2 linked regions of the Homo sapiens genome follow. The protein of the gene in region 2 purifies or fractionates together with the protein of the main gene of each other region. This does not show direct contact. Each region holds a gene or a part of one and is shown on either strand. Other genes may lie near its edges. The genes, in order: TBC1D2B and PTCD3.

The links.
Region 1: the proteins of PTCD3 (region 2) and TBC1D2B purify together in Homo sapiens (affinity purification with mass spectrometry; 2 studies listed by BioGRID and IntAct, with this or other methods). This does not show direct contact.

The regions. Positions count from the first base shown.
Region 1 is NC_000015.10:78,071,096-78,087,461, forward strand, and holds the start of TBC1D2B (TBC1 domain family member 2B), read right to left. Parts: upstream 6,617-16,366; 5' UTR 6,558-6,616; coding exon 6,198-6,557; intron 1-6,197. UniProt on the Homo sapiens protein: GTPase-activating protein that plays a role in the early steps of endocytosis.
Region 2 is NC_000002.12:86,109,011-86,118,834, reverse strand, and holds part of PTCD3 (small ribosomal subunit protein mS39 precursor), read right to left. Parts: intron 7,723-9,824; coding exon 7,677-7,722; intron 2,306-7,676; coding exon 2,237-2,305; intron 1,781-2,236; coding exon 1,676-1,780; intron 1-1,675. UniProt on the Homo sapiens protein: Mitochondrial RNA-binding protein that has a role in mitochondrial translation.

The sequences.
Region 1 (16,366 bases), on a different chromosome or scaffold from region 2:
ACAGGCGTGAGCCACCACATCCAGCCACACCTGGCTAGTTTTTTTTAATTTTTGTAGGGATAGGGTCTCACTTTGTTGCCTAGGCTGGTCTCGAACTATTGGTATCAAGTGATCCTCCCATTTCGGCCTCCCAAAGTGCTGGGATTACAGGAGTGAGCCACTGTGCCCAGCTAACATTTTTAAATGGTTGAAAAAAATCAAAAGAATATTTTGCGAAATGTGAAAATTATATGAAATCCAAATTTCAGAGTCCATAACTAAAAGTTAAAACACAGCTATACTCATTCTGTGGTTGTTTCTGTACTACAACAGCATAGTGACAGATATGGCAGAGTGCGCAAAACCTAAAATAGTATGTGGCCCTTTACATAAAAAGTTTGCCTCTGCTATAACAGTGTCCTTGGAGTCCTGACCATGGGCATGAAATATATGAGACCCGAAAATATGGAACTGACTGTAAGCTCTCTCCTCTGGGGAAGGGTGAGTCATAACCCCCTTTTGGATTCCTGATGTCTGTTAAATTCAGTGGGCATTCACTGAATGGCTGCCACCTCCATGACATGAGGCAAGAATGGCATGTAATACACCTGTATATTTGGGAGTTCTGGCTGATCACTTCTAAAGGGTCAGGGCTCACACCAAAACCAGTGCTTACTGGGTGACCATTTTCTATTCATTCATGCAACAAATGTCTACCTGGGCACCTTACCTTAGTCGGTTCAGGCTGTTATAACAAAAACACCACAGACTAAGTGGCTTAAACAACAGAAATTTACTCAGTTCTGAAGGCTGGAATGTCCAAAATCAAGGTGCTGGTCAATTTGGTTCCTGGCGGGGGCCCTCTTCCTGGTTTGCAAAGGAATGCCTTTTTGCTGTATCCTCATAGGTGGAAGGGGAGATCATCTCTCCAGGGTCTCTTTTTATAAAGGCACTAATCCCATTCGTGAAGGCTCCACCCTCATGAGTTAATTACCTCCCAAAGGCCCCACCTCTAAATATCATCACACTGGGAGCTGGCACTTCAACATACGAATTTTTCAGGAACACAAACACTAGTTTATAGCATGTCTCCTTTGTGCCAGATACTGTTGCAGGAGCTGAGGATACACACAGTCCTTAGGGAGCTTACCCTCTGGTTAGCAGGAAATAGGATGGAGACTCCCCTGCAATGAGGACTGTGTGAGGCAGTGGGAGAGGGAGACGGAATGCCACTGTGATATCACAAGCACAATACTGGACTTGCCTTGAAGGAACTTACTAATTGGAAAGCCATGAAAAGTTAAATTCCCATAACTTAAAGAGTTAAATAATGCTTCAAGACTGAGCAGATGCCCTAGGGCAGAACAGCTTAGAAGAACCAAACAGCAAAGGAGGCTGGTTCACCACATCTATTTTGCACTGAAAACAATATGATTACCCAAGCCGACAAATGTTTGTCATTAAGAGAAATTTCAACACCAGGGAATGTGCATTCCCACAAAAGTGGTTAAGAATAGGGGTACACAGCTATTCAGTTACGTGTGGCTCAGAAACCAGTACACATGTCTATTTAGCACCAAGCACCTACGGAGGGAGGAATTCATTTGCTGACGGTCTGATGACGCTCTCTTGCTCCAAAGTCTGCAGAGATCTGGAAGATCAAGGCTGTTTAAGCTTCACCCTCGGTCAGTCACATGCTCTCCTTCCCCTAAGTGCCTCAGATTCCAGTAAAGCTCTGTGAGAAGCCTCCAGCACCCCTACACACAGAGAGAGACGCACACAGGAAGCATCAGCCTCTGCTAGACCCTTGCAGCAGTTTCCAGACATGTCCAGCAAAAGGTACTAGGCATCCTGGTAAAGAACTGGGCAGTAAAATGTTCCCTTGTGATACCCACTATCCAAAAAGGACAGATATTAAATGCAATAGAAGGAAAGACTACTACTACGCCTTATCCGATCCCCAACAAAGTCAAAAAAAAGCAGACTTGTCAGAACAGACAATACAATTAGATACTACACATTTTAGACATTCACTATTCCTGGAGCCTCTACTTTCAGAGAGGGTCTGAGTCTAGCTTCATGATGTTGGCAAAATCACATCCCCTCTCTAGCCTCTATTACCTCATAAGGCACCAGATCAAATCCCTAAGTTTGGGAATAGAGGAGTTTCCCAAGAAATTCCTATATCAGCTTTCATTAAGACTTACATAGAAAAACATTTTGAAAAAGCCCAACAAAACCACAGCTTCTCCAGAGAGAGCTGAAAGACACTTTTAAATAAGAAAAACATATGATAATAGAATAAGAAAAGTGCTGATTTTTCTTTACTTTTTAACCCTCTGTGATAAGAAATGGTATTTGTAAAATTATATACCACTAGCTGAAGTCTGAGCAGGGCTAAATCCTAACTTAAAATCCTTAGAAATCAGGGTCTCCTCTATGGCTGGGCAGCCCTAAAGTGAAACATTAAGGCTTAAGGGAATCAGTTCTTGCATTTGAAAGACGAAAAGGAAGATAAATTGGTAATTTCCATACTTACACCATAAAGATTTTACTCCTACAGCTCAAAAGAAATAACTGTACAATGAAATTTAATTTTCTTAAAACACACGCCTGGCTGGGTGCGGTGGCTCATATCTGTAACCCCAGCACTTTGAGAGGCAGAGGCAGGTGGATCACGAGGTCAGGAGTTCGAGACCAGCCTGGCCAATATGGTGAAACCCCGTCTCTACTAAAAATACAAAAATTAGCTGGGAGCGGTGGCACGCGCCTATAGTCCCTCAGCTCGGAAGGCTGAGGCAGGAGAATTGCTTGAACCCGGGAGCCAGAGGTTGCAGTTAGCAGAGACTGTGCCACTGCACTCCAGCCTGGGCGACACAGCAAGACTCTGTTTCAAAAAAAAAAAGGGAGCAGGGTTTTAGAGTCGGGGTGTTTTTTGCTTGTTTGTTTGTTTGTTTGTTTGTTTTTAAGGTGGAGTCTCACTCTGTCGCTCAGGCTGGAGTGCAGTGGTGTGATCTCGGCTCACTGCAACCTCCGCCTCCCGGGTTCATGCAATTCTCCTGCCTCAGCCTCGCGAGCAGCTGGGACTACAGCGTGCGCCACCATGCCCAGCCAATTTTTGTATTTTTAGTAGAGATGGGGTTTCACCATATTGGCCAGGCTGGTCTCGAACTCCTGACCTCAAGTGATCCACTCGCCTCGGCCTCCCAAAGTGCTGGGATTACAGGCATGAGCCACCACGCCCGGCCTTCTCCTCCCTTCTTCCAGAAAGCCTTGCCTGATTTCCATTCCCATTGTTGTATACAGCCAACACTCGGTACTATCTTATTCTGTGACCAATTTAATTTTACATGTCAAAATATTCCTCCATTGTCAGTAACCCAAAGGAAAATGTATTTCCTTTCTTTAAAAAAAGAAATATTCTGAACCTACAAAAAGATGGATAGCATAATAGGACAAACACTGATATACCTATGACCCAGTCCAAGAAATAAAACACTGCAAAACAGGAGAAGCCCTGAGGCACCCATTCCCAATCACATCCTCCCTCTTCCCATCACAGGCAACCACTACCTGGAAACCAGAGCTCATCAGCCCCATAAAGCTCTTCCCCTCGCGAAAGAGCATACATCCTTATGATCTGTAGTACTGTTTCACATGATCTTCCTAACCTTTCTATAAGTGGTATCATTCTGAACACAATCAGTGTGTAACTTACTTCTTGTTCAATTTTATTGTTTGTGAGAGTAATCCACGTTGACACCTATAGCTCTAGTACCTTTGTTTACTACTGCATAATATTCCACTATATGAATACACTACATATTTGGCCAAAGACACTGCTTGATGTTTCATATGCCATGTAGTGCCTACTATTTTCCATACCACTATGGAAAATGCGCCAGCCATTTTCCATAACATTCTCCAGAATCCTCACAGCCACCTAATGAGGAAGGTATGATTCCCACTAGACCAAAGAGGAAACTGGAGCAGGGAACTGGTGTAATTTGTCCAATATGTGTGAGCAGCAGACTCCTGCTTCAAGTTCAAGTCCATCGAAGTTTAAAGCCACACTTCTGACAATGCGCCTTGTAACCCTGCTTATGTAGATTCTTATTTATTATTTTTTTTTTAATTTTTTTTGAGATGGAGTCTCACTCTGTCACCCAGGCTGAGTGCAGTGGCGCGATCTCTGCTCACTGCAAGCTCTTCCTCCCGGGTTCACGCCATTCTCCTGCCTCAGCCTCCCGAATAACTGGGACTACAGGCACCCGCCACCATGCCTGGCTAATTTTTTGTATATTTAATAGACATGGGGTGTCACCGTGTTAGCCAGGATGGTCTCGAGCTCCTGACCTCGTGATCCACCCGTCTCGGCCTCCCAAAGTGCTGGGATTACAGGAGATTCAGATTATTTTAATGAAAAAAACTGATAGAGTTCTACAGTCATCTGGGAAAAATGTGAAACACGATGCTCTATTTTCTTTAACAAACATCCCACAGGAAATTCGTCCGACACAGGGACAGCCCGTATGTACACTGAGGAAGAGCCTCTGCCTTTGGCAAAGGTCTCCCACTAGGGTCATTACCAAGTTTATACAGGCACTCTCTAAGTAAGCCTGTGTAGGACTGCAACCCGAGTTGGTTTTCTTTGGGGAAACAGGCTGTCTGCACCCACTTACAGACAGGACAGGGGAGCCCAAGAGAACATGGGAATCAGATCCTGCTTGAACTGGCAAAAGCTGAGTCAGCAAAGCTCTAAGAACATCTCCAGGGAGCAGCTCCAGCTGTTAGCAGCTCTGGGGGTCTGAGGAACAGTCCTCAGCTCACAAGGCCAGGAGTTTGCCTAGTCTGCTCTCCGTGTGGCCAGCTTTGAGAGCACTTTCATACATCCCAGCCCAACCCTGTTGCTCTGGAGAAAGCCCAACCTGGAATACGGAAGAGGAGTGAGAGTGAGGGTGGAGACTCACAGAAACCAGGCAGGGAGCAAAGCCTGGAAAAAGGATACCCAGCTCCAGGCCTGGGCCCAGATCCCTCCAGATGCTCAAAGCAGGTGGGCCCCTAGGAGGTGACAGTCTAGTCCCCCAGAACTCCCAAGGACAGGGGAGGCCTTTCAGCACCAGGACTCCTGACTCTACTCTCCTGCTTCTACACTGTATCTCTCATTTTGTCTGTCCACTGGAGGATTAAGGGAGCCTCAAAGGAGCAAGGCATAACTGGCTGAAAAGACCCCCTCCCACCCATCCTGGACAAAGCAAGGAGGAAGAACACAGGATCTGCCACCTACTGGCTGTGTGACCTTAGCTGGAGCATCCCCGTCCACTCTGGAGGAAAATGTAGTGGACTGTCTCTAAGGGCCCTGCCATCTGACTCTTTCTGTCTACAGTGCTAAATGCACTCTGGCTCACGCCTGGCATCCCAGCACTTTGGGAAGCTGGATGGGGAGGATGGTTTCGGCCCAGGAGTTCGAGACTAGCCTGGGCAACATAGTGAGACCCCCGTTTCTTTAAAAAAAAAAAAAAATTTAATTAGCCAGGCGTGGTGGCCCGCACCTGTGGTCCCAGCTACTTGGGAGGCTGAGGTGGGAGGATCTCTTGAGCCCAGGCATGGAGGCTGCAGTGAGCCGAGATCGCACCCCTGCACTCCAGCCTGGACAACAGAACAAGATCCTGTCTCAAAAAGAATAAATAAACAAATAAATAAAAGCACTGACATTTACTGAGCAGTTTAAAGTATAATTCATTTAATCCCAACACCCCATGAGGTAGATACTACTGTTATCCCATTTTACAGAGGAGGCCGCTGCAGCCCAGAGCGGTTCACTGAGGTACCAAGGCCATAGGCAAAGTTCTAAAGGAGGCCCCAGGGGTAGAAGCCTACGCTCACGGATGCCTGGGAAGGCTGCACAGGACATCCACGGGATGGTGGGGGTCGGGAGACACCAGAGACTGGCCCGAGGTTAGGCGCAGAGGGAGATAATGGGTCAAGGTGTCTGAGAAAGGAGACGGGGCTTGGTAGCCCCAGCGAGACTGGCCTAAGCCCAGATAGTGGGGAGGAGATAGGAACGAGGGCGGGATGTGGAGAAGCAGGGAAAGGCAGGCCGACGTGGGCAGGGGCGAGGAGGCCTTGGAGGAAGGAGGGTGGATGGCGCAAGCCAGTGGCGGAGGCAGGGGACGCCGGCGGAAGCGCGCGGGCGGCTTTGGGGCGAGCGGTCCCACCTTGAGCACCGTGACGGCTCCCGCGCTGTGCACCTGGAAGTGCGCGGGCGGCTCCGTGCCCGGCTCCGCCGCCTCGTCGGGGCCCTGGTAGCTGAAGCAGGCGTCCGCGATGTCCAAGTGGCCGAGGGGCAGCGCGTCCTGCGGACTCTTGAAATAGTAAAGGTAGCAGCGGCGCGCGTCGAACACGAACCAGCGGCTGCGGTAGCCACGCAGGGGGCCCTTGCCCGACAGCTTCTGCAGATAGCCACACAGCCGCGCTGGCTCCCGCGCCGGACCCGCCCCGGGCTCCGCGGCCGCCCCCTGCGCCGCGCCCTCGCCGCCGCCGCCGCCCTCCTCCGCCCGGGCTCCGGCCCCCGGCATCGCTACCGCGCGCCAACCGTAGGCGCCCGCGCCCTGCGCCTCCGCGCCGCGGCCGCTGCGCCCCCTACCCCCTCCGCACCGCCCCTTCGCTCCGCACGGCCCGCGGGCGCGCAAAGCACCCTGGGACTTGTAGTCTCGCCCCCGCCCGCCCGCCGGCCGTTGCCCCCTCAGCCCCCGGAGGCAGGGTCCTGCGACCAGCACCCCGCGGGTCAGTTGCCTTCGTGCCACCTGGGCTCCAAGTCCTCGCCCTGCCGGATGAAGCAATGGTCTATTTCTTTATGGCAGTGTAGGTACATGGGAGTGTGCATCTCTCAAAACCCAGCGGAGTGTCCGCTTAAAACTGCATTTCACACTGTGTATCTTATTCTAAAAACTTGATATTTAAATCTCCCTCCTGCCAGAGTCTCAAGCTAATATTGTAAAAATGAGACAGCCTATTGCCTGGTGCTGAGTGGGTGCTCAGTAAATATTTGCAGAATTCATGAAAGCCAAAGCGTTTCCTGCCTCTCCAGACCTCAGTTCATTTATTGAATTCAACATATATTTATTGAGCGCCTTCTGAATGCCGGGTACGGTTCTGTATGCCAGGCCCTGGCGGATACAGCAGTGAACAAACCAATCATTCTCCTGCCCTCGTGGAGGTTATATTCTAGTAAGGCAGGGAGGTGACACACAAGAAAGCAGATAAAAGTAATGTGTGCTATGTTGTATAAATGCCGTGATGACATGTAAATGATTACCGCTTAAAATAGCACCTAGTATTTATCAGTGCTTTATAGACTAACTTATTTGAACACTCACAACCTGAGAAGGCAAATCTATTGCTTTGTAATAAAGCAAAGAGAAAGAATGAATAAGACCAAGTATTTGCTAGCACAACAGGGTGACTACAGTCAAAAATAATATAATTGTACGTTTAAAAATAACCAAAAGAGTATAATACAGACGCGGTGGTTCACGCCTGTAATCCCAGCAGTTTGGGAGGCCGAGGTGGGTGGATCACCTGAGGTCGGGAGTTCGAGACCAGCCTGACCAACATGAAGAAACCCTGTCTCTACTAAAAATACAAAATTAGCTGGGCGTGGTGGTGCATGCCTGTAATCCCAGCTACTCGGGAGGCTGAAGCAAGAGAATCTCTTGAACCCCGGAGGTGGAGGTTGCAGTGAGCCGAGGTTGCGCCATTGCACTCCAGCCTGGGCAACAAGAGCAAAACTCTGTCTAAAAAGAAAAAAAAAAGTATAATAGGATTGTTTGTAACACAAAGGATAAATGCTTGAGGTGATGGATACCTTACTTACCCTGATTTGATTATTATGCATTGCATGCCTGTATTAAAATATCTCATGTAACCCATAAATATATACACCTACTATGTTCCCACAAGAATAAAAAATAAGTAAAAAGCAAAGTGAGAGGATGAAGTGATGGGGGGCAGATAGCAGGCTGCTGCCCCAGGACAGGCAAGGAGGCTGGTCTGATCCTGTGACATGGAGCACAAACCCAGATGATGGGAGGGACAGGGGCAACCAGAAATGTGGGTGAAGCATTCCAGGGAGAGGGAATAGTGAGTACAAGAGCTCACTTTATTCAAAGGAAAAAGGAAGTGTATAGCTACATAGCTACATTTGTGAAAGCCCAAACCAAATATCTCACCCTCATAGATTTGCATGTTTTATACAGACACACTGAAAGACCCAGGTGGAAAACTGACCTTTCTGAGCTGGACAGGGACACAAATTAGACTGCCTGTTTGGAGCCACCCAGGTAGGAAGGGCAGGTTCTGGGTCCTCACCCAGCCTGCCGACTCTCTGCAGGCCCTAAAGTGGCACCACGCAAGCATTCCTTTCCTGGGGCCCATCAGAGGTGTGGCTGACCTCTCCACCTGTCTTTGAGCACAATCAGCACAGTGTTAAGGACTGGGCTCTGACTTCACACTGACCAGATGTGTCTCCTAGCTCTGCCACTTACCAGAGGCATGACCTTGGGCAAGTGATTTAACCTCTCTGGGCCTCAGTCTCTTCATTTATAAAACAGGGTTGATAAATACAAGTAGCTATCTCGTGCTGTTGTTATTGAAAGGGTTACGTGAGAAATGCATATGAAAGTGCTTAGCACGGTGCCTCACACATAGTAAGCACTCAGCACATATCAGCTGTTATTATTATCATCTTGCAGTTAACACCGATGTCTTCCTCATCAGTCAGCAGATTCGGAGAGGGGGAATCCAACAGTCAGACCGGGCCCAGACAAGGGAGGCCAGACACTGCGGTGCTGCGGGAGTGGAGTGGGCTGCTCTCGGGAGCAAGGGGTCCCAAGTTCAATTTGGGCCTCACCATGTATGTAAAAGGGGCTGTGACTAATTGGCTTGTGGGGTAGGCAGTCAGGGTGAGGTCTGACCTTGAAATACTGTGGGAAAGGGAAGAGCTGGGAGAACCCGGTCTGTATTGCCATGGTACAGGGAGGCAACAGGACAGGGGAGGGTGTAGCCCATCTCTCCTAGATCTATCAGTAAGTTATAAGGAAGTGGGGGTGGCCATGACCTGTGGTCCCAGTGGACAGGACCAAGCCCCATGAGGTGTCTCACGGGGGCCGATGTCTGCTAGGCCCGAGGAAGGCATCCTTCACAGGCACAAGCCACGAGCCCCCCTCCTGGACTAAGAGTCTGGGCTGGCTGGCCAGGGCTAGGCAGATGGGACGGGACAGGGGTGCTGTTTTAAGCGGTAATCATCTACATGTCATCACGGCATTTATACAACATAGCACACATTACTTTTATCTGCTTTCTTGTGTGTCACCTCCCTGCCTTACTAGAATATAATCTCCACGAGGGTAGGAGAATGATTGGTTTGTTCACTGCTGTATCCGCCAGGGCCTGGCATGCAGAACCGTACCTGCTGTCTGTGCCCCTCAGTGGGCAAGCTGGACTTCAGCCTGACTCCCCTACACCTGAGCCTCCAATCCTTCCCTGGTCACCCAGCACAGATGAGCTGGGGCCATTTTAAAATGCTTGCAGGGCTGAGTGTGGTGGCTCACGCCTGTAATCCCAGCACTTTGGGAGGCCAAGGAGGGCAGATCACAAGGTCAGGAGTTTGAGACCTGCCTGGGCAACATGGTGAAAACCAATCTCTACTAAAAATACAAAAATGAGCCAGGCACGGTGGCACGTGCCTGTAATCCCAGCTACTCAGGAGGCCGAGGCAGGAGAATCGCTTGAGTCTGGGAGGAGGAGGTTGCAGTGAACCAAGATCGTGCCACTGCACTCCAGCCTGGGTAACAGAGCAAGGCTCTGTCTCAAAATAATAATAATAATAAAAATAAATAAAATGCTTGTAAGCCACTGCCCTCTTCCTTCTGGAGGCCACACCTGACATCATATCAAACATATTAAAATGCTCTACATCCCGTAGTAAACATATACATAATTTTTGCTATGAAAATGTTTTCAGGAATATCCATAATTGTGCTCTTGATATTATCTAATTATGAGTTTTCATTTTCATTTTTAATTGGCTGATTTCTTGGCAATCATCGTGTCTGTGTGGGAATTTTGGCCAAGTGAGAGAAACCTAACCTAGAAATTGTTCTCAAATGTAATGACCTTTTTTTTTTTTTTTTTTTTGGAGATGGGTCTCATTGTGTCACCCAGGCTGGAGTGCGGTGACGCTACCTCAACTCACTGCAACCTCCCCCTCCTGGGCTCAGGCAATCCTCCCACCTCAGCCTCCTGAGTAGCTGGAACCACAGGTGTGCGCAGCACCACGCTCAGCTAATTTTTGTATTTTTTGTAGAGATAGGTCTCTGCTATGTTGCCCAGGCTGGTCTCAAACTCCTGGTCTCAAGTGATCCTCCCACCTTGGCCTCCCAGAGTGCTGGGATTAAGGCATGAGCCAAGGTGCCCAGCTCTGTTATGACATTTTTATGATGACTATAAAGGTGACATGTTACATTTGTAGACATTTAATTAGATGTTCATTAATTCTAATTTTGCTGTTTTTCTTGGGTTTTAGAGCCAATACATTTTTCTTAGGCCACAAACATTTCACAGGCCTCTCAAGCAGGCAGGCCCAGGCACTGAGCTTTTTAGTATATTAGGGGATAAACTGGCCTGGCCCCTGCCTCGGTCTGGCCGGGTCCAGAATATGGCCCTCTGAGGAGGCTGCACAGACACAGGCCTGAGTCCCCAGTGAGAGTGGTAAAGTATGGAGGCCTCAAAGCCAACAGCAATGTCTCAGGAGGGTCCCCTGGAGGGCCCTGAGTCTCTGTCTACCCGACCAGGCTTAGGAAGTGGCCCAAGCCTTCCAAGGATCCCTAGAGCCTCCAGAATCAACCCTAAAACCCTCTTGACTCTCTAGACCTCCCCCAGGCCCCTCTTCCCCACTGACTCTCTCAAGACCCTGCTGAAATGCTTTTTATTTCGTGAACAAACCCTTCTCCCCTCATTCCTAGGGCCATGAGCTGAGGAGAACTAGGCAATGGGGCTTTATCTCATCTCTCTTAGTACCTCCATCTTCAGTCTGGACAATGTTTATAGTTTATGTAAATAGATATAGCTTCAGTTCTTCCCAAGGGCCTCCTACATGGAAATGTTGGGGCTGTCTCTGGTGGCTCCTAATTCCCTGAAACCCTTCGTAAATGGTTTGTTGACATCTGCAGTTCCTGAGGTCTCTTAGATTAAACAGTGATGTCCTGTGGTCAGGGCCAGCTTTATACAGCCTGTGTACCTTCCCTGCATCTAGTACAGGCATGAGAGGTGTTGAGGGGTCTGCCCTGCATGCCCATGTAAGCCCCTGCTTCCTCGAGCCGTCCAGGAACCCAGTGACCAGAAGGAAGTAACCACCCAGGAGGAAGTAGCTGGTGTTTACTGAAAAGGGGAAATTTGGGCAGTAAACTTGCTCCTACATGGCCAGCCTCTGGGAAAACCCTAGGGGAACACAGAGCCAGTGACTCATCCTAGGTCAGTCTCCCCAGAGTTGGTAGCATGTGCCCAGAGGCCTCTGAAGAAGCACTCACTGCACACTGCCTTTGTAGCTGTCAGACTCCAGGGAGACAGAGCTGGCCGAGATGCTGACCTCCCGTTGGAGGAGTGCACAGATCTGCAGGAGGCCCAGAGAGGAAAACAGCCTTATCACCTGTATGCTGTATGCCCCAGGGCATGTCCCTGCCCTCTCTGGGCTGCAGTTTTCCACCTGCACAACAAGGAGACGGATGGCTAAGTGATGTCCAAAGGCCTGCCCCTGCCTGCTCAGAAACACAACAGTGGCCTGAGACACAGCTGTGAGGGCCTGCAGTCATTCTTCCCACAGCTCTGCAGGCCAGTGGAGGCTATGCTCTTTTCAGTCCCACTGCTCAAAGCCCTCTGGACTGTTGCAGCCATCACAACCAAGCTGCCCCATCCCCTCAGGGCTCCACTCCATCTACAGGCTTGGCTGCCCACTGCAGTTGGTGCAAACATGACCCCTTTGAGGTGACACTTTTGCATCCTATGACCCTGGGCCCTGAAGGAGAAGCAGCCCTAATCGTCACCCCCATCCGGGGCACAAATGAAGGCCTTGTGTCCCTGAGGCAGACAGAAGCAGAGATAGCTGTGTTACTTGGGGGTTGGACAATGCTATCCTCGTAGGTCCTTGTGAAGGAAGTTGGCCTGATGAGGAGGGGATGGGGTGGGTGAAGAAGGTTGGGGGACTGGAGCTGTGAATGGGCCGAGCGCTGGAGGGCTAGGGGCAGGGCAGAGAAGAGCAAGCCCATCCTCAGAGCAGAGGATGCTTTGACCAGAGCACACAGCTGCCACAGGGAGACCCCAGACCAGAGAGAGGGCTTTCCAGGTATGTCCGCAAAGCTCTGAAAGGGGGCACCCTGCACCAAGCCTACTGCCCTGGTGGGAGGTTGTTGGGGGTACTGGGGCAGGGGTAGGGTGGTGGGGGAGTGGTTTCAAAATAAAGAAGGGGGCTGGGCCTGATGGCTCACACCTGTAATCCTAGCACTTTGAGAGGCTGAGGCGAGTGGATCACTTGAGCTCAGGAGTTTGAGACCAGTCTGGGCAACATGGCAAAACCCCATCTCTACAAAAAATTAGCTGGGCATGGTGGTGCATGCCTATAGTCCCAGCTACTTGGGGGTCTGAGGCAGGAGGATTGCTTGAGCCCAGGAAGTCAAGGTTGCAGCGAGCTGAGATTGCGCCACTGCACTCCAGCCTGGGTGACAAAGTGAGACCCTGTCTCTAAGTAAATAAATAAGGAACTATGGGCGCTTGGGCCAATCTCCCAGCCTCTCTGTGCCTCAGATTCCTCATCTGTACAATGGGGCATAATAACATTTACCCCTTAGAGCTGCTAGGGGCTTAAATGAGCCAGTAAATGCAAAACACTGGACACAGTCGCTGACGTACAACAAGTCTCAGTTTGGTAACTAATTCATTTAACAAACATCCCTGGCTCCTGCTCTTTGCCTCTGGCTGGTGATGGGTGGTGCTGAAAACTCACCACAAGACTAGGCCTGGCCCCACTGCAGGAAGCTCTCAGTTTTGTCAGGTGGGACAGCCTCAGAGAGAACAGCCCCAGCAAGGGAGCCCAGGGCTCTCAGACCATCTTGGACTGTGGACTCTGGCTTCCAGTAGGCCTCATTTCCCTACCAAATTGGCAGTCAAATTTGCATACCTCCTGGCTCTTTTTCTGAGAGGGAACAAATCTGAGGTGCTGGCCAATCTCCCAGCCCTGGGGCCAGGGGACCGAGGCTCAGACAGATGGAGGTCTGGGTGTCTCTGGGAGCTGATAGAGGGTAGAGGGTTGGCAGGGGCTTGGTACCAGGCAGTCAAGCCCAGCATGGGAGACAGGGAGAGTCACACTGCCCCAGGAGCAGGGGAGCACTAGACCCTGAGGAGGCAATGGGCCGCAGCTGCAGAGGCCTTGTGTCCTTCCTGTTACCACCCTGTTCCCAGGGCCTGGCGCCCGGCCCAGCACAGCGTAGTCCCCTCTGCCTTCACCTTTCTGCTTCCTAGAGGCCCTCATGCTGTCCCCTTCCCAGTGCCCCCATCACTCAGCCAAATCTGATCTCGGACACTTCCACCCTTCCCACACAAGCAGCAGGGACTAAAACCTACTTTGAGGCCAAGTCTGGAAGGTGGGGCATTTTAACTGACAGCTTAAAGAGATGCTGTTCTGATGGTGGAAGTTCAGGCATTCTTCTGGTTGGGCGAAGGGGTCTACGAAAGGAGTTTACGGCGTACTTATGTGAGCAAAGCAATGAAGAGGGAAGCGGGAAGAAGGCAGTCAGGATACATGAAGACAGGCACAGAAAAGACCCAGAAGAAGTAGATTCTGGAGTGGGAGGAATGTTTTTAAATGTGTTTCTTATTTGGAAGTTTGACTACATTGACTATTAATTTTGAATTAATGCATTTTTAAAGTATTTAAAGAATTTGGGTAGCAGGGAAAATGGCTGGAGCAATGGCATGGGAGGAGGATGCAGCATGTATAGGGGAGGAGGATGGGGTACGAGATTCTCGACTTGGCCCTGCCATGGACTTACTCCTTGTCTTGGACAGGCCATTTCCATTCTTGAGTTTCAGTGTCCCTGTCTTTATAATGGGAAAAAATGGGGACAGTAATGCTACCTTGTATACCTGCTATAAAGATGAAAGGAAATCATGTATGTGTGTATGTGAAGTACTTGGCACCTGGTAAGGGCTCAAAATCATTAGGAATCTACGGAGGACCTCTGTTTTCCCAGCTGTAAAGTGAGGGGAAGGGAGACAGGGATAGGACTAAATTGAGGAGCAAGCCCAGGGGCCCCAGCTGCCCAAGTTGCTAGGTGTACCAGGTCTCTGCAGCTGGGCCCCACGGTGGCCATCTGGCCTCCAAAAGGCTGTAGAATGAGGGTTCTCAAAATTATGGTCCTTGGCCCCTTGTCTTCCCTATGGTCCCTAAACTGATCCCAAAATCTCGTCCCTTCTCCAGCTGTCATGAGCAAACAGCAAGCAACTCTGAAGAATTTCACTTTTACATGGGACTCAGAAATACTCACTAGTGAGTCTGGATTATCTATAGCAAAATTAACTTGCGTCTTGTTCTTGCTGCTGAAACTGAGAGGTACACTGACAAGGGAGCCTCTCTGATCTAAGGGGTGGTTTTCCGCTCTGGGCTGTCAGGAGCAGAGACTACAGGCCCAGAGCCCCCCAGATGGGTGCTTTATGGCGCAGATGAGGTTGGCAATGTTTTTAAGACCGTGGTAGGTCCAGGGCACTCTCACCTTTGGAGTCTCCATCTCACTACTATCAAATATATGTAATTTTTAAATGGCATGGCCATATTTTACAATAAAAATATATATGTCTTTTGCTTTAAGCTTTTTGGAAAGGATTATTCTTATGATTTTGCTTTTGAAATGATTTGGCCTTGAGGAATTCATTTCACTTGCAATTGGTAATGATTTCTTGGCAGTCTTCTTGCACACTTGAGGATTTTTGTGAGCTAAGATAATCTGGCCTCCAAACCATTTTCAGATGTGATGAAACTTTTATGAATACGAAATGAAGCTGATGCAATATTACATAGTATAGACATTTACTTATACATTTATTCATTGTGATTTTGCATTTTTCTCCTTTTGAATTTTGGAGCCAATACTGGTTGTTTGTTTGTTTGTTTCTTCCAGGTCTCAGATCTTTTTATAGGCCCTTGGAAAGTTCCCAGCCCAGTACCTGGCCATTGTCCTAAGGATAAAATAGAACCACCTGTGTTTGGTGGGAGAAGGGCTGAGGGGGACCTCTCTGGACACTGCCCTCCCCAACCAGCAGCCATGTAGAAAGATGGCAAGACGAAGTCACTCAGTGGCCTTGAGGGACCAAAAGGATCACGATAACATTGGTGACTTCTCTGGACCAGCCATAGCCCTCTCCGCTGGTTTTTCCTGCATGCTGGGGGCCTCAAAATGACTGAAATTGAAAATATTATTCATTCATTTATTCAGTATTTACTGAGCCATAAATCAATACAACGCTTAACGAAAGCAATTTGGCATCATCTGCTAAAATGACAACTGCAAATACCCTTTGATTCAGCGATTCCACTTTCGAGAATGTGTTTCATGGATGTATTTATTCTTACACTTAATCAAATCCATATAAGGTTATCCATTGCTGCATTTTCAGGAATTAAAAAAAATTGGAAACAACTCAAATGACCATCAATAGAGGACTGGTTACAAAAATTATTATGTATTCATACAATGGAATAATATGCAGCTGTGAAAATAAGAATGGCACCCCTCTCTTTAGTCTTGTGGAAGGAGTGCCAAGATACACTGTTGAATTTTTTTTACAAGGCAAGGTGCAGAATGCTGTATAGTACTCTATCTTTTATGTAAGAAGGTGAGGAAAATAATATACACACTTGGCTGGGCGCAGTAGCTCATGCCTATAATCCCAACACCTTTAGTCCCAGCTACTCAAGAGGCTGAGGTGTGGGAGGATTGCTTGAGCCCAGGAGGTTGAGGGTGCAGTGAGCTGTGGTTGCACCACTGCACTCCAGCCTGGCCAACAGAGCAAGGCTTTGTCTCAAAAAAAGAAAAGAAGAGAAGAGAAGAGAAGGGAAAAAGAAAAGAAAAGAAAAAATATACATACTTATTTGGATGTACATAAACCCAGGAAGGACATTCAAGGAACAACTAACAGTGGTTATCTATGGGAATGAAATGTGGTTAGTAACTGGGTGGATGGGGTTAAATGCCTGGAGGAAAAATATTTTTACTGGTATCTTTTTATATTTGTCTTTTTAAATATTATGTTGATTTATCGTCTACTTGAATAATGAATT
Region 2 (9,824 bases):
ATACCAAAGTAAAACTTCACTGCTCCAATTCATGTTTCCTGCACCAGATACTACTGATCATTTTAACATCACTGTCTTCACAGGGAATTGAACTAAACCTTTCATCTCTAATGCTGTGTATCATCTAAACATTTAATACTACCCAAGGTATGCTGATTTTACCTCATTCACTAACTTATTCAAATACTTTCTGAATGCCTACTATTTTACCCCAGACATTAAGCTTGGCACTGGGGATACAGAGACGAAAGGCATTCTCTACCTTCAGGGTGCTCACAATCTAATGGAGAAAGACACTGTCTTAGTTTAGGATTTTAATATTTTGACTTACACAATCACACTGGCTTCCTCATCTATGTGCAAGTTCTACTATGAAAACAAGAAGTGTGTGTTTCCCTGTGAGCTTTGGGAAGCAGAGAGATGTAGGGATATGGGAGCAGTTTAGATATGATGAGTCTGAGATTAGTACTTCCACCAACAAACTCAGGAGGGCAGAGGCGCATCTGTTTTGCTCACCACTGTATGGACAAGCACTAAGCACAATACCCACCACACTGCATAAATCCTCACTCCAAAACTACAGAACAAAGAGGGAGCTGGAAATACAATGTGGAGTTCAAAGTAAAGGGATCTAGGCTAGATATACAAAAGAGTACCAAATGGATTATAAGCGTCACTGAAACAGAAGAGTATACACAATAAAAAGAGAAAATGAGCATAAAAATCTAAGAAAGATACCCATGCTTAAGAAGTGGATCAAGGCCGGACACGGTGGCTCACACCTGTAATCCCAGGACTTTGGGAGGCCAAGTCGGGTGGATCACGAGGTCAGGAGTTCAAGACCAGCCTGGCCAAGATGGTAAAACCCCGTCTCTACTAAAACTATAAAAATTAGCCAGGTGCGGTGGCAGGCACCTGTAATCCCAGCTGCTCAGGAGGCTGAGGCAGGAGAATTGCTTGAACCCGGGCGGCAGAGGCTGCAGTGAGCCAAGATCGTGCCACTGCACTCCAGCCTGGGCAACAGAGTGAGACTCCATCTCAAACAAAAACAAACAAAAAAAGAAGCGGATCAAGAGCAAGCAGCAGTGGCTTACACCTGCAATCCCAGAGATTGCAGAGGCTGAGAAGGGTGTTTGCTTGAGCCCAGAAATTTGAGACCAGCCTGGGCAGTGCAGTGAGACAAGACCCTGTTCTCTACAAAAACTAAAAATTAAAAAAAATCAGCCAGGCATGGTGGCACACCCCTGTAGTCCAAGCTACTTGTGAGGCTGAGGCAAGAGGATCACTTGAGCCCAGGGGTTCCAGGCTGCAATGAGCTATGATTGTACCATTGCACTCCAGCCTGGGTGACAGCATGATGCCGTTTCAAAAAAAAAAAAAAGGAAGAGAAAGATGTGTATAGAGAGGTAGTGAAGGAAACTTCAGTCATAGAATTAAAGACCTAAGAGCATGGTGTCACAAAAATCAAATGGGGAAAATATTAAGATGAAGAGCAAATAAATACAGAAAGAATTTTAAAGTTAGTCTTGTGATCAAAGCTAACTCCACACTTTAAAAGGCTTATCATCCAAATATTGAGGGTATTCAAATAGCTACTGAAATATTAGCCATGAAAGCCTGGTTTAATTTACATTTAAAATAGTATTATGTAAATAATGTAACTACCTCTCCTTACCGGTATATGAGGTTCAGCTATGTCCTTCTGAAAATATTTGGGGTATGAATTAATAATAAACTTGGCCACATTCTCCCCGGATTTCTTTGCCAGTAAAAATGAACGCTATATAAAGAAAAAGATTTAAATACATGTAATTTAAACTCAAGCAAGATTATAGTTACACTCTCAGCAAGAATTTCTCCCCCCTCACAAAAAAAAACAAATGCAACAACACGCAGAATCCCAATTAGAAATTATAGACTATCCCACCTTTTCTACTGTGATATAATTTCAGTTAGCATCTTATACACAGCTTGAAATATATAAAAAGCAAGCCATTTAAACTGAGTGGGTCACTCCAGTGTGAAAAAGCCCTAAGTATTAGAAACCAAAACCAAAAATCCTTTCCCCATTGACGATATGTACATCTTTTTGAAGAAAGTAGTAAAGGATTCACATAGTCTATCAATTTCTCAGCATTTGTAAACCTTTCCCAGGTTATTACAACTAAATTATTTATGTACTGTTGTACGCAAACCAGAGAGATAAAACACTAGAAAATTATATGAAAATACTCACAGATTCCAAAGATGATGCTGGCATAAGGTAAGGATCATCTTGAAACACATAAGGCACAGCTGTGGTATCCTGTGGAAAAGACATAATACAATTTCTATATTTATTTTGAAGACAGCTCACTGTAACTTTTAGCTCCTGGACTCAAGGGATTCTCCTGCCTCAGCCTCCCAAGTAGCCTAGGCTACAGGTGTGTGCCACCACAGCTGGCCATTTCACAAAATTTTTTGCAGAGAGGGTGTCTTGCTGTGTCACCCAAGCTGGTCTCAAACTCCTGGCCTCAAGCAGTTCTCTCACTTCTGCCTTACAAAGGGCTAGGATTATAGACGTGAGCCACTGTATCCAGCCCACAAGTCTTTCTAGCTAAATTTTTAAGAGGACCTTGTGAGTTTTGATAAACAAAAATTCCGTAAGTTGTAATTATGTATGTAACCTAAATGCGCAAACGTGTGTGGGCATATATACATGTATATATAGAGAAAAAAGACAAAAGACAAACACCTGCACTGTACTCTCAGCTCTACAAGACTTGCCTTTAATTATGCAAGGCAAGCAATGGCTTAAGCCTCCCTCCCCATGGCTGATTTTAATATTTAAGTTTGCTACCACTGGGGACTGTTTTAAACTCTAGGTAAGAATCATCTGAATTAACTAGTCCTAACAGCAGAATCCCAGAATAGGATTTCCTCCAAAGCAAGGTCACTATCCACCCACGCTCAACTTCACCAAGAGTCCCTCCTCCAAATGGAAGATATCACCGTGCCCTCTGAGGAATGAACAACAGAACCTTCTCCCACGTCCTGTTACCCATTAAAATTGCTCCCTAAACCTGAGCATAATCAACTCTCCAATACCACCAGGGGCCCCACTGAGAAATGCCCCAGAATTGCTTTCTTTATTCTCTTCTGTGTCTGAGTGCCTTACTTGGGCCTTTATTCCAAAGCAAAAACTTATCCTATATCCTTAATGCTGTTTTACTGACCTGGACTCCTCAGGGAGGGGGCACAGAAGCTTCCCTGCAGCTCTCAACGGAAAGCTGCTCATACCTGGAACCTGGAGGCAGTGTTTTATTTTGGACCTAGCTTTCTGCTACCCCTTTCAAAAACCCCTTTCCCTTGAGCCTCACCTTAGCAGCCCTGTTGTGAACTTCAGTTTTTATTTGAATTATACTAATGGAAAGCCAATGTTGAATTCTTAAGAGTGATATGATCCAGGGTCACTACAGCTGCTGAACTGAGAGCAGTGTGCAGGGAGGTGCAGTGGGAGACGACAGAGACTGCTGCAATTAATCCAGACTTGTAAGACGACAATAACCAAGGTGACTGGTAGTGATATCAGGCATCTAAAATTTTGATATTTTGCAGAAAAGAGTTAACAGACCTGAAACCATTATCCTTAGGAAGGTCTGCGTCCAAGGCTGGCCCTTGGCTGCCATCTGGGAACCTGGATATTGGAAGGGTTCTCACCATTCCTAGAACTGCTAAGAATGGTTCACTGTGCCTAACCTGTTTGTACAACGTGTTTTGTGCCAAACACCTGCTTCCCTTCTGGGAGTATGGAAACTTGGTATAATATATGCCAGCCAGTGGGTGGTCTACATGGCCAGCCTCCCCTAAAAACTCTGGGCACTGGGTCTCTAATGAGCTTTGGTAGACACTTTGCATGTGTTGTCACAAGTCACTGATGGAGGAATTAAGCATGTCCTGTGTTGAATCTTCTGGAGAGGTCTTTTGGAAGCTTGTGACTGATTTCTTTTGGTCTTTATCCAATGAGCCTTTTCTCTTTGCTGACTTTGCTTTGTATCTTCTTGCTGTCATAACTCTTAGCCTGGGAGTGGTCACGGAGACCTCACACACACGTATCTTTTGAAGGGATAAACAAAGGCTTTGCTAACAATTCCCAGGATTTTGGCCTGAGCAGCTATAAGAATGGAGTTGCCATTAATGAGATGGCAAAGAAATATGTGAGGAATGTTTGGAGGGAATGGGGTTTGGTTTTGGATATGCTAAGCTCTTTATCACACTCTCAAGTGGAAAGCTTTCCCATTCTCCACATAGCTCTCTTTTCTAAAATGTCTGCTTAGAATTCCTTTACCCCCATCCTGGCTAACACAGTGAAACTCCGTCTCTACTAAAAATACAAAAATTAGCCGGGCGTGGGGGTGGGGGCGCCTGTAGTCCCAGCTACTCAGGAGGCTGAGGCAGGAGAATGGCGTGAGCCCAGGAGGCAGAGCTTGCAGTGAGCTGAGATTGCGCCACTGCACTCCAGCCTGGGTGACAGAGGGAGACTCCGTCTCTTTAAAAAAAAAAAAAGAAAGAAAAAAAAGAATTCCTTTCTCAGTCTTGGCGATACAACCCCTTCTCAGTGCTACCTCAGTCTTCCCCTCTAGAACTACACAATATCTGTGTCTAATTCTATATCCAGCACAGTGCTTGATAAGCATCATAAGGGCACAAAATATTGTTGCTGAATGAATGGATAAACGAATAACTCTTGGATTTTAAGGGCCAGATAAGTCACAATTCTACACACAATTCTATAACTTCTTTGATTTGAAAGTGGCCCTGGGCCATTCTCATTGAAATGTTGAGAATATCTCGGAGGTCCATTTCTATGTTTACATTTCAGGTGCCTATTTATGGATAAGTGAGCTACTGAAAATCTCAATGCTTTGCAAGTAGGGAGATGTAGTAAAGTCCTTTTTCAGAAACTGGTAGAGTACACCAGTGCACATTAGACCCAACACTATCTTTAGTAGCTCCATCTTTATTTTATATTTAATTTTTTTGTGTGTGGCGGGGGGGACAGGGTCTCACTCTGTGGAGTACAGTGGTGCGATCCTGGCTCACCGCAACCTCCACCTCCACCTCCCAGGATCAAGTGAGCCTCACCTCAGCCTCCCAAGTAGCTGGGACTACAGGCGCATACTACCACGCTCAGCTAATTTTTGTGTTTTTTTGTAGAGACAGGGTTTCACCATGTTGCCCAGACTGATCTCAAAGTCCCGAGCTCACAGGATCCACCCGCCTTGACCTCCCAAACTGCTGGGATTACAGGCATGAGCCACTATGTCCAGCCTAGTAGTTCCATTTTTAGATGTAGTTTAATATCCACAATAGAAGAACAATTCTGCGTACTTGTAATAATCGACTTAAGGAGGATCAATATCCATACAGATACTGTGGCAGAAAAAAAGACTTAATTATTTTAGACTTTTCCCCACAGACGAAATTAAAAGTTTTTGGTTAATAAAAAATACAACCAAGCAGAAAGTTCCATTTCTGATGCATTTACCAAAGTTTCAGTGTATCTACCAGACTACAAACTCTACTCTTGAGTTGCCAACAGAGAAAATTTCATGTCAATGAAATCAACAATACAGTAGTAGCAGTAACAAAATACAATGTACCAAGAATTTCCTTTGTCCCAGACTCTATCCTAAATCTTACGTATACTTAATTCATTTGTTAATAATTCCACTGCAACCTTGAGGTTTGGTGCTATAATTAACCCCCAATTTATAAGTCAGGAAACAGAAGTATCAAGAGGTAAAGTAACTTCCCTAAGATCATAAAGCTAGTTGCTTGGCTATTAAAACAAACCAGTAGGCTCCAGGACCCAGATTATTAATCATTACATGATTGTCAGCATGACAGGTACATTATTTCTCCAAGTTGGTATACTACAGCCAAATCGTCCCCTAAGAACATACATTTCAACAAGCCCTTCCAGGGATTAAAGATCACTGGTATGGTAGAAAAACACTGCATTTCGAGATAAAAGGCGTGAAATTAAGCCTTTAATTAAGGTTTTAACATCCTAACCAGCCACTGGCCACTTTCAAAACCTTAGCTTCCTCCTTTGCCAAATAAAGGGATTTGATAATTTTATTTTAAATTTTTTTTTTTTTTTTTTTTTTTGAGACAGAGTCTCACTAACTCACCCAGGCTGGAATGCAGTGGCAGGACCTTGGCTCACTGCAACTTCTGCCTCCCAGGTTCAAGAGATTCTCTTGCCTCAGCCTCCTGAATAGGTAGGACTACAGGTGCCACCATGCCTCGTAATTTTTGTTTTTGTTGTTTTGGTAGAGACAGGGTTTCACCATGTTCACCATGCTGGTATCGAACTCCTGACCTCAAGCAATCAGCCTCCCTCGGTCTCCCAAAGTGATGGGATTAGTGATGGGATTACAGATGTGAGCCACTGCTCCTGGCCAATAATTTTATTCTTAAAAAAAAAAAAAAAAGGCCGGGCACTGTGGCTCACATCTGTAATCCCAGCACTTTGGGAGGCCAAGGCGGGTGGATCAGGAGGTCAGGAGATGGAGACCATCCTGGTGAGCACAGCGAAACCCCGTCTCTACTAAAAATACAAAAAAATAGCCAGGCGTGGCGGCGGGCGCCTGTAGTCCCAGCTACTCGGGAGGCTGAGACAGGAGAATGGCATGAACCTGGGAGGCAGAGCTTGCAGTGAGCCGGGACTGTGCCACTGCACTTCAGCCTGGGCGACACAGCAAGACTCCGTCTCAAAAAATAAATTAAAAAAAAAAAAAAAAAAAAGTTTGGCGCAGTGGCTCACACCTGTAATCCCAGCACTTTGGGAGGCCAAGGCAAGTGGATCACCTGAGGTCAGGAGTTCGAGACCAGCCTGACCAACATGGAGAAACCCCGTCTCTACTTAAAATACAAAATTAGTTGGGCGTGGTGGCACATGCCTGTAATCCCAGCTACTCAGGAGGCTGAGGCAGAAGAATTGCTTGAACCCAGGAGGTGGAGGTTGCGGTGAGCCGAGATCGCGCCATTGCACTGCAGCCTAAGGCAACAAGAGCAAAACTCTGTCTCAAACAAAACAAAACAAACAAACAAACAAAAAACAGATGGGGGTCTTGCTACATTGCCCAAGCTGGTTTTGAACTCCTGATGTCAAGTGGTCTTCCTACTTTGGCCTCCAAAAGTGTTGGGATCACATTCATGAGCCACCTGGCTCAGCTGGATTAGACAATTTTTTTTTTTTTGAGACAGAGTCTCGCTCTTTCGCCCAGGCTGGAGTGCAGTGGCGCGATCTCTCCTCACTGCAAGCTCTGCCTCCTGGGTTCACGCCATTCTCCTGCCTCAGCCTCCCAAGTAGCTGGGATTACAGGTGCCTGCCACCACGCCTGGCTAATTTTTTATATTTTCAGTAGAGACGGGGTTTCACTGTGTTAGCCAGGATGGTCTCGATCTCCTGACCTTGTGATCCACCTGCCTCGGCCTCCCAAAGTGCTGGGATTACAGGCGTGAGCCACCGCGCCCGGCCTAGACAATTTTAAAGAAACTTTCTAGACGCACAACAGTTTAATTCTGAGTAATGACGAGGTATGAGTATTAAATGTGTTATTAGCCGAGTTAAAAAGTGTGTTATTAGCCAAGTTTTAGGTTAAAAAAAAACACAAAATCCTACTTACCCTGTTTACTGTGGATGCAAGTGCCTGAAGAACGGCTACTTTATCCCTAAAAATAAGAACCACAAGTTAATCCTCATCAGGGCTCTTCATAGCCACAAACCGAACAAGTGATTCTACTCTCAGTGTACTGGCCAATAACATAGTGCAGATCTCATCTGAAGCTGGTTATGTCACAAGGTCACTAGAATAAATTAGAAATTAAGAAAACTGCTGGTTCTTTCCCCTAGTTGGTACATGTTCCTCTCTTTGCCTGTCCTCTCTGGCCTGGTGCATAATGCCATAACCCAGGGCTAGTGATTTCCATCCCGCCCTCATAAAACTATCTGGCCTACTTCCTCTACCCACTTTCCTATGGATTCTTACTGCAGCTTTCGGGACTACTGTTGCCTTTACTATCCTAATTGGTAGCTCTTGATTCAGTTATAGGAGAATAAACCACAGGCTTCACTCTGGACCTATTGCATCAAAGCCTCCCAAGATCCATGGAGGACTGTCACACACACTCTTACTGAATTCCCAGATAATTCTGATGCAACCTCCTGGTTTAGAACCTCTCAACCATATATAACGTTATGGTAAGAATTGCAGGCCAGCTGTCCACTGCACCTCTGAGTAGAGACCTTTACTGAACTATTAGAAAAGGCTTCACTGGAATAAATGACAGACAAGATAATTTGATCTCAAATATATTTGTGCTCCTATGTTAGATTTAATGTGTTTCCTTTCCAAAAGGGAATTATACCAAGAGTATTTTTCTAAATAAAGTTTAACATAACATTCTTAAGACTATAAGTCATCTGAGAAAAACAAAAGTACAGGAAATTTTATATTTCATCAAAACTAATTCCCTGATGTACATAATATCCACTAAATTTTCTATCCACGTTTAGAAGTCACATTTATGTAATTTCAGCAAGTGTGATAACGACACATTCTCTCATCTGTCAGCATTCCTTCAGCAGATCTTTTATTGCCCTATTTAAGTCTTATCAAGTTAGCAAACTTTCCTAACATATTGAACAAATGGCAGTGAAAAAATGATGACATTCAGATTACTCACTAATTCTCTTTCTTTAAAGGGTTACTTTAAAAGGTATCATACATTATCTTAAAAAAATAAACTAGAACATTACACGTTAACCTAAAGTGTCTGGTGTCATCTTGTGACCCCTCTCCACGATGAATTTGGTATTTGTATTTCCAGAACTTTTAAAGGTATTTTCACACATAAACATCTCCCTAAAAAACGTATACACACTGTCATTCTGCATGTGTCTACATAAGTTTGGCTGCACTATCCATGTTATTAAATATAGAGCTAATTAATTCCTTTCAATGTAAAAAGTTATTGTATGATAACCTTTTAAAATTATCCATTCACTTTTCAATGGGCATTCAGGCTGTTTCAACCTGTTACTATTCCCAAGTAATAAAGAACAGTCTTGTCCATGTATATATGCAAATGTTCCTCCAAAGTGGCTAACCAGTAAGGTACGCACATTTCCAATTCTGATTCTGCCAAATTTCCCTCCAAAGAGCTGTTCCAATTTACTGTCCCATAAACAAACGTATTTCTTCAAATCCTCTCTCTGCCAATACGGTAAGTTTTAATTTGCACTTCTTTTATGATCCCAGTTACCTATGCATTGACATCACTGGGCTCCCTGGCCTCCCTAAAATAATCACACAGTTCAGATTAATAAAGTTCTTAAAAAAGTCTTTTTAAATGAACCCAAGTCTTTTTTTTTTTTTGAGATGGAGTCTTGCTCTGTCGCCCAGGCTGGAGTGCAGTGGCGCGACCTCGGCTCACTGCAAGCTCCGTCTCCCGGGTTCACGCCATTCTCCTGCCTCAGCCTCCCGAGTAGCTGGGACTACAGGCGACCCCCCACCACATCCGGCTAATTTTTTTGTATTTTTAGTAGAGACGGGGTTTCACCGTGTTAGCCAGGATGGTCTCAATCTCCTGACCTCATCATCCGCCCGCCTCGGCCTCCCAAAGTGCTGGGATTACAGGCGTAAGCCACCGCGCCTGGCGAACCCGAGTCTTTAGGTCACATAATTTTAAGACCTAGCTTTTTGAGGGGCCACTAAATGCGTTCAATAGGACTACACTGTAACAAGCACTTTTGTGAAGTTTTAATTCCTGCA